Regions from separate parts of the Homo sapiens genome. Here region 2 is linked to region 1. A link means that fine-mapping ties the variant in region 1 to the expression of a gene that starts in the linked region. Tissue or cell type: whole blood. Region 1 holds a variant in brackets; the other region holds the start of a gene. All regions are shown on one strand. Distances are from middle to middle.

Evidence for each region. PIP is the estimated chance that this variant, and not a neighbour inherited with it, causes the effect.
Region 2: it holds the start of REV1, and the variant in region 1 is fine-mapped to the expression of REV1 in whole blood (TOPMed, PIP above 0.99).

The regions. Positions count from the first base shown.
Region 1 is chr2:99,554,323-99,556,822 of GRCh38, reverse strand. It overlaps AFF3 (ALF transcription elongation factor 3), which reads left to right. Exons shown (of 25, transcript NM_001386135.1): 23 at 2,091-2,140; 24 at 2,289-2,500. Among named protein-coding and RNA genes, the nearest start is that of REV1, 66 kb to the right of the region's middle. RefSeq lists enhancers at 922-1,428, 1,812-2,359, 2,360-2,500. The variant G/A (reference allele first, on the strand shown) is at 1,204.
Region 2 is chr2:99,488,446-99,491,112 of GRCh38, reverse strand. It overlaps REV1 (REV1 DNA directed polymerase), which reads left to right and starts at 1,096. Exons shown (of 23, transcript NM_016316.4): 1 at 1,096-1,296. RefSeq lists an enhancer at 273-1,158 and silencers at 592-1,261, 1,372-1,471, 1,542-1,621.

The DNA.
Region 1 (2,500 bases):
AGCCTCCCAAGTCGCTGAGACCACAGATACACACCACCACACCCAGCTCATTTTTTCATTTTTTGTAGACAGAGGGTCTCCTTGTGTTGTCCAGACCCTTCTCGAACTCCTGTCCTCCAGCGAGCCTACTGCCTTGGCCTCCCAAAGTGCTAGGATTACCAATGTGAGCCATACACCCAGCCTCAAGGGCTATTTAAATGCTACTTTGAGTTCAGAAACCATGAAATCTTTAGGTACCCAAGACAATTTGGCTATATGTGTTTTATCAGTACAGAGCTATCTCTAAAAAAAAAGAACTTTGTTCCTACCGGTATTTCTTGGGCATGGGGCTTAGTGGTAGAGGAAGAGAACTCAAGACTTCTTTTTTTGTTGTTTTTTTTTGAGACGGAGTCTCGCTCCGTCACCCAGGCTGGAGTGCAGTGGCACAATCTTGGCTCACCCTAACCTCCACCTCCCAGGTTCAAGCGATTCTGTCTCAGCCTCCCAAGTAGTTGGGATTACAGGCGTGTGCCACCACACCCGGCCAATTTTTTGTATCTTTAGTAGAGATGGGGTTTCACCATGTCATCCAGGCTGGTCTCAGACTCCTGACTTCAGGTGATCCACCCACCTCAGCCTCCCATAGTGCTGGGATTACAGGCGTGAGTCACTGCCTTCTTCCTCCATTCAGTAGCCTTTACTGGACTGTTTCTGCAACCCCCAAGCCTTTCTCCCCTTCTGCCATTAGTGTTCTTATATCCAGAACATGCATTCTATAGATCACGTTCTCAGAACCACAGGATGAAGTGGAAACAAAGTGATCAGTCCAGTAGCACCAGCTTGAGAAAGGTGTCAGTAACATTGTGTCAAGAAAGGGAGGATAAGCTCCCCTGTTCAGGAAGGTTTCCTAATTCTCCTCATGAAAATAATTGTATTTCCTGACACAGGTAAAAGTGGCATGGTTTGCGGTGTTGTCCTTACATTTACATCTTGCCATTGTAGCACCTCAGAGTTCTGACAGGCCATTTCTTGCCATTTTAATAACACCCGCACTAAAACCAGAAAAATCAGTCACCACTCCATAAAGTTCTTTCTAACCAAAAGAAACATGTTGTCTCTGGAGAACCAGGCTGAGGCTGTTTTCTTGTCTCTGGAAGGGGAAAACTCCCATCAGCATCACAAAGACCGCTTTCTCCCTTAACAGTCCTATGAAGGCATGATTGG[G/A]TTCTCAGAGGGGAAATCTAACTGTGCATTGAGCAACTTCCCTAACTAGAGGCAAAACTTTTAAATATCTGATGCAAGCACCTGGCTTGTGCAACAGAACTTCCTAAACCAGAATATTCAGATAAACCAGAATGTTTGAACATCCTGTCTGTTCTGGAAATATATTTTAATCAATTCTATTAGGAATATGCAACAGCAACTTACTTTAAGAAGAAATACTTTTAAACTTCCTAAGTTAAAACAATACAATCTGATGTCATGTATTTTCAGGCACTAAGTAAATGTATGTCGACTGTTTCTGCAAACATGTCCTACTTTTAAATATAAAGTATTGTATATAAGGGGAGATATGAGGGTGTTCCTGCTCTTTTTTCCTTTTAAGAAAAATTAATTTACAATGAAAAAGTAAGGCTGCTTCAAGATTTAACAGACCGTTGGGATTATGACTTAATGTGGTACCTAAAATTTGTACATAAAAACCCAGGCTGTGGGTGAAGCCCTTCACTTACCTCACTGAGGGCTGATGCAGGCACCTTGTCCATGCAAAATAACTTCTAAATCAGAATATTCAGATAAACTAGAACTTTTGAGTATCCTGTCTGCTAGGGAAATACATTTAAATATATTCTCTTAGGAATGTTCAAGAGCAACTCCCTTTAAGAGAAATACTGTTAAACTTCCGAAGTCCAGGCAGCTGTCCCGACTCCCTTCCAGAAAGGGAACAGAGAACTGTGATGGAGACTTCCCAGGTCCAGTTTCTCTGAAGGTGCCTTTTTCCTGCAGTGTCTGCCTTTGCTTCTCTCTGCAGTCACCTGAAAACACGTTCATGTCACCTGTTTCACCTCACGCAGATGGCACTCACTGTCAGTGTTTTTATTTTCTTGCAGAACTCATCTAAAGCCGCCCAAGCCCCATCTCCGTGGGGGGCCAGTGGAAAGTAAGTTCGCTTTTCCAAAGTCAATGCCGTAAGCCAGACAATGCATGGTGCTGGGCCACTGCGCTTTGCTTTCTGTTCCCCAAGGGGCTGCCCTGCCTCGCTTGCTCCCGACCTCGCCACTCTGGTTTTTCTACCTCTCCCCTTCCAGGAGCACTGGAACCCCATCCCCCATGTCTCCCAACCCCTCTCCCGCCAGCTCCGTGGGGTCTCAGGGCAGCCTCTCCAACGCCAGCGCCCTGTCCCCGTCGACCATCGTCAGCATCCCACAGCGCATCCACCAGATGGCGGCCAACCACGTCAGCATCACCAACAGCATCCTGCACAGCTACGACTACTGGGAGATGGCCGACAACCTGGCCA
Region 2 (2,667 bases), 66 kb after region 1:
CTAGTAAACAAGTTCCAACTCTGCAAATCAGTTTTCAAAAGAATACTGATTGTTTCCTAAGTACCTGCAAACTCTGAAGCATTTTAGGCAAGGGAATGAGTGGGAAAAAAGTATCTTCATGTTTGTGCATTACAACAATAAAGACTATTATGTAACAATGTGGAGTCTTCAAAGCGACCCTGCCAAGAGGGAGAAAGTGGTCCTTATGGACGGATTGTTTTCTGCTAGAAGGCCCTCAATTAGAATTGTACTTACGCATACATAATATAGGATATTATTTTTATATTCATAGAAAACTGCTTTCTCGGGTAACTCCAGCGCTGTACATGGGATGGGATACCGGCCCTCCGTTTACAAATACTCAGGCGCAATGCTGCCCGGGCACTCAAAGGACAGAAGATAGTGTCTGTGCCCTGCGGGAGCAGGCCACGAATCCCGAAAACGCCGTGGCGCAGTGCTCCTTCCCGCGAACCTGAGTGGGCCGTGGTTCTCGGTTGCTCTGGACATAGGAAAATGTCAGTTCATGTGTGTCCCTTTCTCCACTAGATGTCACTGTAAATCAATTGCTTAAGGAGGGAACCCGGGCGTCTGGCGCATCTTCACACAGTACCGGGGTTTGAAGCCCGGTCAGTGTCTGCACTTGTGTCCTTCCCCACTGGGGAGCCCCAAGGCGGGGCAGGCGCGGGGACTCGCTGTGCACGGAGCGGCGCGCTGTCCGAATGGCAACCGAAGAGCCGCGACCCGGTCAACGAAGCGCGGGGGTGACCGGAGCAGGACGGGCGGGCAGGCGGCGCAGTGCGTGGGCGGGCCCGCGCTGCGCTCCCCTCCGCCCAGCTAGCGAGACGGTCACGTGCCGCCCAGGCGCTGCCCCTTGCGGGCGGCTGCAGAACAACAGGGCGGGGCCGGGGAGGGGAGGAACACGGAGGCCGACGCCGGGCGCCGCGGTGCTACGCCCGAGGCTGGGGTCGCCCCGGGCCGGGGGGAGCAGAGCGCGTGCGCCGCGCGGCTGTGAGCGCGAGCGGGGCCGGGGAGCGCGCGCGGAACGCTAGGGGGCGTGGCTGCGGCGCGCGCGCTAACCGGAGGGGGAGGGGCGGAGAGCCACCGCGGAGCGCGCGCGGGGTTGGTTGCCGCGAGCGTGGGGGAGCGTGGACCGCGGCGCTGCTCAGCGGTGGGGCTGCCTTCCCCCGGCCCTCCTCCCTGGTCCCTGGCGAGGGCACTGGCGGCGGCGGGGCCGGGGTCCGCAAGGCCGGAGAAGGCCGCCGGGCCCGGGCATGGTGGTCTGGGGCAACGCGGAAGGTGAGCGACCCCCGGGCCGGCGGCGGGGTGGGGGAGGGGCGGGATCGGACACGCGTCGCCCGGAGGCGCCGCAGACCCGCCCGGCAGCGGCCAGAGCGCGGTCGGCCTGAGGTGGCGCGGGGGAGGGGTGCGTCGCCCCGGCCCCGGCCCGCGGCCGTCCTGTCGCGGCCTGGGCTGTCCACGGCGCCTTCCCCTGACGCTCGCAGCCGCCGGGTTATGTAATGTGTGACCTCCCCTCCCCTTCCCTTCCGTCATGGCGCGGCCGGCCCCGCGCCGCCGCCAGCCCCATGGGCCGCCCCGCGCCGACCCCTGGCGCAGCGGCCCTTCCCTCCGCGCCCGGCCGCATCCCGCCGGCCCGGTCAGACCGCGCCGCAAACTCCTTCCTCCTGCGCCGGCGCCTCGGCCGGCCATTCAGTTCCGCGCCATTCATTCACGCGCGCGTTCGGGCGTTCGTTCCACAAGCGTTTGTAGAATGTCGACCCGGTCGAGCCGCCGCTCCCACCCGCACTCCAGCCACAGCGTTTTTCCGCACCCCGCCTTCGACGTCCCCGGTGCATCCCAGAACCGGTCGGAATGTCCGAAGGCGGTTGTTGCTCCCTTGTTTTTCCTTGCTGCTTGTCCGTTCGCTAAATACGCTGGGCGCCGTTCCCCAACTGTCCTTCCGAGAGCCCCTTGCCCACTTCTGTACTGTTACAGTGACGCCGCTCTGGGCGCACCGAGCCGCGCTGTGTTTCGCTGCTCTTCCTACCTATTCTCAGTTTGTAAAGAAATAATCTCACATAACACTCCTTAATGTACTCCTCCGTAAGATAAATTGCAGATAATATACGTCTGCTAATTCTCTTTATCTCCACGTCTTCTCACGCCATGTACTAAGTAGAAATGGTTTCATTTAGGTGAAAATAATGCAGACTAGCACATAGCACAACAAGGGCTTGTAACTATTAAGGACTTTATGTAACAGTCTGTAATTCTGTGTATCTGTCTGGTCTTTCCGGACTTGGCACTTTAGTCTCCGAGAATAAGCCATTTCCTGTTTAGGTAGGGTAGGACCAACCATAACCTTGGTTCTTTCTATGGAGTTCTGTATGTAGCAAATCAGCCTGTGGGAACCATCTATCTGTCCACCAACCTTTCACACATATTCTTGGGTTTGCCCGTGCAGGGACCAGTGCTGCGTATTGTTCCCTGCCTTCCTGTACTGGACACTTAAGAGCTCACCTAAAGTTCCTCTTCCAGGAATCATTCTCCAGTATACAAGGCTCTCTTCCATTCAATTCTTAGGCTATTTGCGCCTTTTCCTGTGTTGCGTTTATCTTTTTAGCCCTGTCTTCTCTTACTGTGTAGGACCTTTTGAGGGTAGAGTCTGTA